3 linked regions of the Homo sapiens genome follow. The protein of the gene in region 2 interacts with the protein of the main gene of each other region in a pairwise test. Each region holds a gene or a part of one and is shown on either strand. Other genes may lie near its edges.

Region 1 (3,390 bases), on a different chromosome or scaffold from region 2:
CAATTTGGGGAGGATCTTTATAATCCAAGTCTCTTTGTTCTTCAGCTCTAGCTGCTGGAATTTATTATTCTTAGTAAAACCAGGCTCTAGTTGGTCTAGTTATTTATTCAGACTCTGAGAAAGGGGTCATCAGAGAAGCATCAAGGCACAGGAGGTGGTAAGAAGAAATGCAGGTCAGATTTAACGACATGCCTAGTGCCTTCTGGACTGAACATCTGCTACACTAGGAGAGTCTCCCAATTTTCTTTCCCTAAAGAAAAGCCAGATTTACAATGTGCTTCTCTGCTACTGCTATGTTTTTGCTAAAAGGATTTTTTTCTTTTCTGATTTACCCTTGCGTGGAATACAGGCCCTAAGGGCCTTGTAAATATTTAAAGTTAAAAAGCTTTTTATGGCTATGCTAGCAATGAGGTAAAAAATAATGGAGAAATAAGCAAAATGGGCTCCTATTCAACTTTTATGATCTTATTCCTAAGGCACTTATGCTGGGTGGAAGCCAATGACTGTTCACAAACCACTTTTAATCAAATTGGGCTTTAGAGGAAAATTAAGACATATAATCTACCATTTAAAAATTTTAAAAAAAATTGGGCAAAAAATGTAATATTTAAACTGATAAATATAAAAGTGTTCAAGAAACATTCGAACATATAATCTTTCAAAAGCTGACGATTTTTAATTTAACAGAAAAGAAAATGAAATTAATTTTTATAAAAATGATCCAAGTGTTCAATGCACAAATTTTTCTCTCAAACAGCAGAATAAGATGCACCCAGGAATTCTCATATACCGCAATAGAATGAAGAAACAGTACTTTCAGAGAATTATCTTTAGGTGAAGAAATTCAAACTGTCAAGAGTAATATACTGTACATAAACATATACATAAAAAGTCTAAAAACCAAGCTGTGACAAGGGACCTAGAACTGAAACAAAATTTGAGAAAAACTTACTTAAAAGCATTTGTTTCCTGTAATCTCTACAAATAATTTTAGAAGCAGAGATTTCTGCACTCAACTGTTATGACTAATACAACCAAAAACTTCACTTAATGGCATTTTGTGTAATGGTGCCGATATCCTTGGTGTATTAATTTTTTGACTTATTTCCTTTTTCTTTTTCAAATTCAGCTATCTGATTAAATATATTCAGTAAATTCTGAGGTAAATTTTTCTTAACACTGCTTTCTGAGTGTTCTTTGCTACTTAGTGCATCTTCTTCTGGAACCTCTGTTTTGATATCCTCCCCATAATTGTCCTCTCTTTCATATTCTCCTTGATTTGTATTTAAACGGTATCTTTGCTCATGTCTACTGAAATCACGTGATCCAGAGTGAGCGTATTTTTTGTATTTCTCAACTGACTTCCAAGAGTATTCTGAGCTTGCTGGTGAGGTAGAATGCCTCACAGAACCTGGTTCCCACCTTCTATAGTGCTCTTTTCTTCCCTCTATATCCTTTTCAAATCTCCTATAACCATAAATCTTGTCCTCTGAATTCCTACAGAAGGAATCTGAGGAATTTCTTCTACTGGAAAAATGTCTTTCTGATTTATATGGCTTTTCTGTTTTGCTACTACCTGCTTGGGTTTTATAGCTGTTATAAAAATCTCTTGGATCTTCAGACCTACCTCCAAAATCATCCGGTATTTCAAGTGAAGATGAAGAGAGAGGGCATCTATCTTTCTCTTTTATCTGTGTCTTTTCATACTGTAACCTATCCTGCTTCCCCAGTAGTTTCTCCACTTCTTGTTTATGGTTAAGAAAAGATGCTGAAGTATTAGCTGGAACTGGGTAGCACTCATCTTTCCTATTCTGATCTATCTGATTTGAGGATGCCCTAGATGAATGCCTTCTGGAACTGCGAGAAGACTCTGAACGGTTCCTCTTATGTTTCTTATGCCTTTTGTGACCAGAAGAGGAAGAGGATGATGATGAAGACACTGATTCATCAGCAGAAGAAACACTTGAAGAAGAAGTTGATTTTCTTCTTTTCTTCTTTAGCCTAAAAAAAACAGTTCATTTGTCATATATATACAAAAATGTTTCTAAATTATTCATAAAGATGTGGGCCCTATTTGTTTCCTTTAAAGATTTTATAAAAGCTGTGGTTCAGATAAATGATACAATAATCTCGGCTACTACAAGATCTAATTTTACTATTAAGCACTTTTGGGGGAAAAAATGCTTGCAGACAGGTATCATTGTAAGCAAATCCATCATCTCTGAAAGACAGACTTTTTTCAACACTACCTTAAAAACTTAAGACTACTGAACACATAAAGGAGAACTCAACTTTTTTATTTGGCTACCTCTAGTTCATGGTTTCTTCACCTGATTATTGGTATTTTCAGCCAAATAATTCTTGGTAGGGGGTGGGGGTGCGGGTGGGAGCTGACCTGTGCATTACAGAATGTTTAAGAGCATCCCTGACCATTATACACTAGATGCAGTAGCACCCTATCAGTTATGGCAATCAAAAATGTCTCCACATCTTGTCAAATGTCCCCGGGTGAATAAATCCACCCCTAGTTGAGAACCACTGCTCTAGTTCTAAAATATTTCTTCCTAAAACATAATTAAAGTAACTTATTCTATATTTTAATTCTAAGATACTCTTTTTTTGTAGAATTCTAGCCTTAAATTCCACTTCATCTCTTTAATAAGAAAATACATGGAACACATATTTGCTAAAGATTCTTAACAGTCACTGATTGGCACTTGAAATACTTTCATATTTTTATTTACTTTACCTCCAGTATGGCACTTTGGGTTCAATTCAGTAGTTGCCTTAAGTTTAAAAATACTGAATATTATAGTTTACCTCTTCTCTTCTTTTAAGAGCTTACGCAACTTTTCTGCACTTGTTTCTATTTTCTTTGTTTTCTGCTTTTCTTCCTTTTCAGCTTGTTTTTCTCTTAATTCCAAAGATTTCTTTTAGAACCCAGATATCGAAAAAAACCACACGTTAAAAATAGCAGAATATATAAAACCCAGTATTCAAAAGACCACCCCCAACGAGAAACCCAATTTAGTAAAACCAAATCACCATAGAGCCAGCATTAAACAGTATTTTTTTAACATAAAAAAATTAGTCATACAGATGTTTGGCATTAGTCATTGAAATGGCCAGAACAGCATTGAGGACCATATTGCAGTTGGTATCCCATAAAAAAAGGGGAAGCCATTGCAGTGGTACCCATGACCCAGAGTGCAAGAAAGGTTAAAAAAAAAAAAAAAGTACATAAAAATTATTTTTAAAGATTGAAAAATTTAAACAGGACACATTTTACAAATAAAATTCAAATAAAGACATTCCGTTAAGGTGAAGTGAAGGAGGAATCACCATGTTCAAATACAAACCATTTAAAAAAATAGCACAGCCCAGTTGGAT
Region 2 (3,656 bases):
ATACTAATAACAACTAAAATCCTTATACATTATATATCAAACATAAAAAGACTCTAAAAGGTGGAAGGAAGAAGGCGCCCCGCTAGGGACCTCCTGAAGACCTATGGTATGACATGATAGCGAGTTCCCTAGGTTTTCTTTTTGTCTCATGTATCCTAGAATTGGAGGTAAAGAAGGTGACAACCCGGAAACACCAACAGGCACGGACTAAAAAATCGTCAACAAAAGCTGTTCTCTCTAACCAAATGACCAAGAGTCAGCCTAGCAAGACAACTTTGAGACAATAACTACTCTACTCTTGTCAAACAACCCAGAGAAAACTGTGGTTCCCAGTCAGAATCGCAATTATTAAAAAGTCAGGAAACAACAGATGCTAGCAAGGCTGTGGAGAAATACGAACACTTTTACACTGTTGGTGGGAATGTAAAATGGTTCAACCATTATTGAAGACAATGTGGCAATTCCTCAAGGACCTAGAACCAGAAATAACATCTGATCCAGCAATCCCATTACTGGGTATATACCAAAAGGAATATAAATCATTCTATTATAAAGATACATGCACATGTATGTTTATTGCAGCACTATTCACAATAGCAAAGACATGGAACCAATCCAAATGTCCATCAATGATAGACCAGATAAAGAAAATGTGGTACATATACACCATGGAATACTATGCAACCACAAAAAGGAATGAGATCATGTCCTTTGCAGGGACATGGATGAAGCTGGAAGCCACCATCCTCAGCAAACTAACACAGGAACAGAAAACCAAACACCACATGTTGTCACCCATAAATGGGAGCTGAACAATGAGAACACATGGACACAGGGAGGGGAACATCACACACTGGAGCCGGTGGGCGGGGAAGGGTGAGGGTGATGGGTTGATAGGTGCAGCAAACCACCATGGTACATGTATACCCTATGTAACAATCCTGCACGTTCTGCACATGTATCCCAGAATTTAAAGTAATAAAATAAAATAAAGAAAAATAAAATAAAATAAATCCTCACACACAAAACAAAAAACAAACAAACAAAAAAAACTGTGGCTCCAACTCCTCCTATGCCAGAAAAAAGAGTACCCATACTTTCACTCTCACCAGGCTATAACTAGGTGCCCCCAATGCAGTAGGTGTCAGAGAAGGCAGAGCAAATGTTTAAATGCTAAAGGAACAAATGGCAGATGAGATCCATGGAAAAGCTAGCTATTGGGTTAGGAGATAAGAAGAATAAATCAATTAGTGACACAATGGTACTTCTATAACTTAAAAGAAAAATATTGGAATAGCACAGTGAAACAGATGATTACAGGTAGGGGGCGTATCAAATTGACACTGTCTCCTTCTCCCAATTCTGATCACAGCAATAAATACCCAAAAATACTTCAGTTTTTGCTTGGTATCTCTTAAATTCTCCAATATTCTCAACAGCAGTATGGATGGCCAGCGTAGCAGTTAGTGTCATCAGCCAGTCTTATTAAAAAACTGAGTTGACAAATGGCTATAACCAGGAAGCAGGGTTTATCTTAAAGATAGCTTTAAGTCATGCCTAAAAATTAAAGCCATGGCAGGCCTGAGGACAGTCCACAGGCAGGCCTCATTTTATTTTTATTTTTTCCTTAGATCCAGGGACAGACTGGATAGACCTAATTTTAAATACAAGTTTTATAGAGACCTTAAATAGCAAAGAACCAGGTAGGAAGAGAATAAATTAAAATGAGACTAAAGATAAGTATAGGAAAAGGAAATGTTGAAAGCTTGAAAAAACAATTTGGAAAATATATTTGCAGATTCATGTACTTTATAAACCTATTTATAGAGTACTAGTAATATGTTTTATTATTTTTGTCTCTAAATCTTTCCTATATATTAGTAAAAGAGAATTGTACCCAAAAGTATAAATGGCAAAATCCTACATCACTAAATACTTATCTTTAAAAATAAAAAAGCCTATTTGACTTCACAAGATTTTATAAAACAAAAAAGCAGATTTTAAAATATTCTACTAGTTATAAAAATCTGGAAATAAAAAAAGGATACAGCATCCATAGCTATGAGATGAAACCTTCTATTTCTTGCTTCTTCCCTGTTAAAACAAATTTTTTTAAGAAAATTCAAAATGTTTATATTCAAATTAACATAATCAAATCCCCTAATCCGAAGCAACTTAAACCAAGAAATAGAATTGACACTGAAATACCATACCTATCCAGCAATTCTGCTGCAACTTGTTTATGGGCCACCTTTCCATGTTTTTCTTTCTGAAATGGTTTTTGGAGCAGTAAGTCATCTTCAACTGTCCTGATATATTAAGAAGAAAATAAGAGTTCACTTTTTTCAAAGGTTATTTTCTAATTCTTTATATTTTCATAACTGGAATATACTTTAAAGAATGTAAGTCTTAACTTTAAGAAGACTCACTGATCTTTAATGAGATATTTTACATTTCCTTAAATAGCTTAATTAATACCTTAACATTATTTTAATACCTATAACACGGGGAAGATGAAACTAACAAAAGCATGGACTCTAGTGTCATATCACCTAGCTTCCTGATTCAAATCCTAATTCTGTCAATTACTACCTTAATCTTAATAAGATTCAATTATTTATCTCTTTGTTTCTTCATTTCTCTATCTGTAACATAGTGATAAGGAAGTTTTTGGTAATTAATGATACACAAAAAGCAAGGCTGATTATAGAGAACACAAACCACAGATCCAGCTCGCCCAACCCATGGGCCTCATGTGGCCCAGGATGGCTTTGAATGTGGCCCAACACAAATTTGTAAACTTTCTTAAAACATTAAGACACTTTTTCACATTTTTTTAAACCTCATTGGCTATCATTAGTGTATTTTACGCAGGCCCAGCACTGCTTCAGGCCAACAATGTGAACCAACAGATTCACAATTGTGTGTGCTCCACTGTAGTACGTGGCCCAAGACAATTCTTCTTCCGATGTGGCCCAGGAAAGCCAAAAGACTGGACACCCTGCCATAGACTGTCAGCCCTAGTTATAGTGATGAATATAATCCTGGAGCAGAGTATCCAACTAGATTTGCTCAAATTCTATTCTTACAAAGTAGTATTTTTGAATGAAAAATCTAGAAAATGTAAAGCATCAAAAATGTAATTTATTATAATTAGTACTATCCTTTATTGCAGAGACTGAGTATCCTATAAAAATGTTCAGAACCTGTTAGTATGCCTAATATATTGCTCTCAGTGTGAAATAATAAGCCAATTTCTATACATTTGCTTAAAAAAATCAGTCAACAGCCGTGTAAGTTTGGTTAGTATACATCAGTCAACCACTCCTGAGTCAAAGTATAAAACTGAGTTTCTATGCACTGAAAGCTAAGAACAATGCTCCTACGCACAGCAGCTCCACCAAGACGTATCCTGCTTATAACGCACAGGCTTTATGTGCTAAGAGTTTTTGTCTCTTGCAATTCAAAAAAACCTTCCTTGAGTTTCTTCCCGTGACCTTAGTCTGCTCATTCACGTATGCGTAAGAACTGTGCTGCATTATACTTTCATCCTCCATATTAACTTCACTTTGAAGGCAAGTAATGGCAAGAGACCACCATTCAAGCCCCTTCTGAGCTACAACATTTACAAATAAACAGTCCTTGACAGTTGAATG
Region 3 (3,656 bases), on a different chromosome or scaffold from region 2:
AGAGGTAATCTTTACTTTTACCTTACTGGAAGTGAAATGTACCTTTCCACTTCTGTCTTGAAAATGGAACATTAGTAGTTGGCAGTCTTTGTTTCTAATCAGAGATGATGCATGCCTAATTTTACTGTATTGTTCATTAAGAAAAGGAATTGAAACTTGAGGTATTGACAGATGCACAGAGCAGTTAGAGTGACAGTGCATCTTCTGCTCACCCTGGGACTATGCGGGTACTGTACACATACTGTGTATTAACTGTATTTCATTTTTCTCAAGGGAGAGTTACAGATTGTGTCTTGTACAATTCAGAGTTAATCAAAGGAGAACTACACTCTGTGTCCCCTGAGTAGGTTACTTTCAACTCTGTTTCTTGATAAGAGCATTTCACTGAGTAGTTGATGACTTTTTTTTTTTTTTGAGATGGAGTTTCGCTCTTGTTGCCCAGGCTGGAGTGCAGTGGCGCGATCTTGGCTCACCGCAACCTCCGCCTCCCGGGTTCAAGCGATTCTCGTGCCTCAGCCTCCCAAGTAGCTGGGATTACAGGCATGCGCCACCACCCCGGCTAATTTTGTATTTTTAGTAGAGACGGGGCTTTTCCATGTTGGTCAGGCTGGTCTTGAACTCCCGACCTCAGGTGATCCACCAGCCTCAGCCTTCTAAAGTGCTGGGATTACAGGCGTGAGCCACTGCACCTGGCCGAGTAGTTGATGACTTTTTAAACTGTGGTTGAGGTTCCATGCACTTCTGACGCCTTTCCCATGTTGGTTCAGCAGCTTTGCGCCCCCTGCCTAACTGCAGACGTGGCGGGAGATGAGTCCCCGAACGCTTGGCTGCTCGGTCAGGCACTGCCACAGCGGCCAGCGTGCTGCAGGGGTTGCTCAGGGAGCTCCTCCGTGTTGTGAGGCCTTATTGCTCACGGCTTACGTCCAGCTCTTCTCAGAAGCTTCAGTTTTGCAGGGAGAGGTTTCGGGGAAACATCTAGCAGCATATGTTGATAGGGATGCCATGGGGTCATCAAGTCCCCGACTTGTTACTGAACTTAAGGCTAGGTCCACTGAAGCATTCCCATTATGGGATTTAGAATCTGTATCATTCCATCTACAGCTTGATACCAGTCACTATTTCGAGGTGGGAGTGAGCAGGTAGCAGGTTCTTCCTCTCTGTGGGGTATTAGTTATTGATTTTCATGTGGAATCTCAGGAATGTTATGCTATTGTAGAGTTGTCATTTACACTTTGGTTAGTTTCATTTTCTGAGTGAGTACTTTGATTAGGTGTCATTTAAGATACAGGGTTCTTGGGAGGCCAAGGCAGGTGGATCACCTGAGGTCAGGAGTTCGAGACCAGCCTAGCCAACATAGTGAAACCCTGTCTCTACTAAAAATACAAAAACTAGCCGGGCGGTTGGCGGGTGCCTGTAGTCCCAGCTACTCGGGAGGCTGAGGCAGGAGAATCGCTTGAACCCGGGAAGCAGAGGTTGCAGCAAGCCGAGATCACGCCATTGCACTCCAGCCTGGGCAACAAAGTGAGACTTCGTCTCCAAACAAAACAAAAAAAAAGATACAGGATTCTCTCCCATCCTCTTGTTTTGGTCAGTCCAAGCTGTAGGAGGCCTTACTGAGTTTTGAGCTGTTCCACAAGAAATGGCTTTTTGTAGACATAGGCGGCCGGAGCTTTATTTCCCTGGCAATCTCTGGGAGGTGTTTTCTAACTCCATTAGCAAGCTGGGTTGGTTCTTAACCTGTCCACTTCCTTTGTTCTTTTTTGTTCTAGGCATTGTAAATAAAAATTTCTCTAAAACAAATGTGCTGTCAGGATTGAAATATGCAGCTGACATGTTAGGTAAAAATAGAAGCTGCTCTTTCTTAATCCACACCAGATTTGTCCTCCCGGGCTCCAGAGGTCTCCCAGAATATTTGAAGCAAGTGGGTTAGCTGAGTCATCAAGCCTGGTCTCAGTGAAGCACACATCTTGGTCCTTGTTAATCTTGGAGGATTGAAGATTTTAGCTAGGAATTGTTCTTAAAGCAACACAAGCCAGATCTTGGGTTCATCAGTTTACTTTGTTCTGGACACCTGAAGAGGCAGAAGCACTAGAATACCTAGCAAAGTTCAGACCTAGTAACAACCTCGCGTAAGGCACTGGGCGGTGAAAGCACTTGGGCCAGGGCCAGCTGGAGCTGCAAGTGGAGCCCAAGCCTTAGACTGTGTCCACTCCCTGCTCCACTGCCCCGAGGCCCTTCCTGCCCCTTCCTGCAGTGGGAGGCGACTCAGAGCAGGGACCCCAGGGAGACCTTACCAGCGCTTCCCTGCTGAGTGCCAAACAAGGCAAGGGTTGAGTATTTTGCCTGTTACTATTTTTTGTGTGTATCTTTTTACAGAATGCCAGTGCTCCTGGACTGTTTTTCTTCACCTTTTTAGCATTAAGCATCCAACTACCTAAAGCCTCTGCTTTATTTTAACCTGAGACCTCAAAGGGGACACAAATGTTAAACATGAAGGCTGTCATGAGCATATGGCCTAAAGGTGTTGATATGCTCGTGGAAACTTTGCTCCATTTCCTGGTTGTAGGAATGTTTAATGTTGTAGCACTTTGGAGATTCTCATCTGAAATCACTGACATATCTTCCTTTCTGTAGGTTTTTACTTTACTTAAAGTGGGGTTTTTGTGTGTGTGTGTGTGTGATACCCATTATTATGAGTTGAAGCCAAATCAAATTTGGATCAGATTTAATTAATTTATTTAATATAGCTGTCACAAGAGATAGAATTTTAATGAAAGCAGTTCTTAAAAAGCAGCTTGACTTCTTTGTGCAGTGTTGGTAGAACACTCAGGTAACCATACTCTTGTTTTTATAAAGTTTCTCTATATTTTGAGTCAGAATTGTTTATTATAAATCATGTGATTTTTAGCACATGGTATTATAATCAGCACCCATGCTGAAAGGAATTTCTCTGTTAAGTTCTGTTCTGGGAAGGGGATATTTCCTTATTTATCAAAGCATTTGTGAACAGATAAGACAGAAAATAAGCAGAAATGAAAACTTTTTTATCTCAGCAAAATACACTTAGATATAAAACATGTATATTGTTTGCTATTATTAGTCATGCCAAATCTTATATCTTAACCTGCTCAGCTGATAGAAATTTGGTCCCACTTGAAATCATAATAAGTTCAAAGATGTTTGGATTAAGATTGTAATTGCAAGAATGTGGGACTCTAGAACATACAGAACTCACTGTCTTAGAATCAGAACAGCAGTGCTGTCTTCCTTTGTCCAGCTCTGCAGCCCAGGGCCAGAGACAAATCCAGAGAATGGCTCTGACTAGCCCCTGATGGTGTTTTAGCTCCTGTGTAGCACACTGCAGCCACTAAGCCAGATGAGTGTGGGGATGGCTGTGGACTTGTGCGTGTTTGATGCTGTAATTGTGTTTCAGATGGTAAAAGATGACTATGAGGACGATTCCCATGTTTTCCGGAAACCCGCCAATGACATCACATCCCAGCTGGAGATTAATTTTGGTAACCTCCCTCGTCCTGGGCGTGGAGCCAGAGGAGGCACCCGGGGAGGCCGGGGAAGGATCAGGAGGGCAGAGAACTATGGACCCAGAGCAGAAGTGGTGGTAGGTGTCTGTATTGACGGTTTGGCGAAAGAAGTTA

What was found.
Region 1: the proteins of FRA10AC1 (region 2) and TTC14 interact in a two-hybrid assay, tested with the Homo sapiens proteins (one large-scale study listed by BioGRID and IntAct).
Region 3: the proteins of FRA10AC1 (region 2) and HABP4 interact in a two-hybrid assay, tested with the Homo sapiens proteins (one large-scale study listed by IntAct).

Annotation. Positions count from the first base shown.
Region 1 is NC_000003.12:180,608,241-180,611,630, reverse strand, and holds the end of TTC14 (tetratricopeptide repeat protein 14), read right to left. Parts: exon of another isoform or gene 2,931-3,390; coding exon 2,821-2,930; exon of another isoform or gene 2,002-2,820; coding exon 1,089-2,001; 3' UTR 501-1,088; downstream 1-500.
Region 2 is NC_000010.11:93,696,088-93,699,743, forward strand, and holds part of FRA10AC1 (protein FRA10AC1), read right to left. Parts: intron 2,310-3,656; coding exon 2,214-2,309; intron 2,095-2,213; coding exon 2,049-2,094; intron 1-2,048. UniProt on the Homo sapiens protein: May be involved in pre-mRNA splicing.
Region 3 is NC_000009.12:96,484,656-96,488,311, forward strand, and holds part of HABP4 (intracellular hyaluronan-binding protein 4), read left to right. Parts: coding exon of another isoform or gene 1-2; exon of another isoform or gene 3-4; intron 5-3,433; coding exon 3,434-3,619; intron 3,620-3,656. UniProt on the Homo sapiens protein: Ribosome-binding protein that promotes ribosome hibernation, a process during which ribosomes are stabilized in an inactive state and preserved from proteasomal degradation.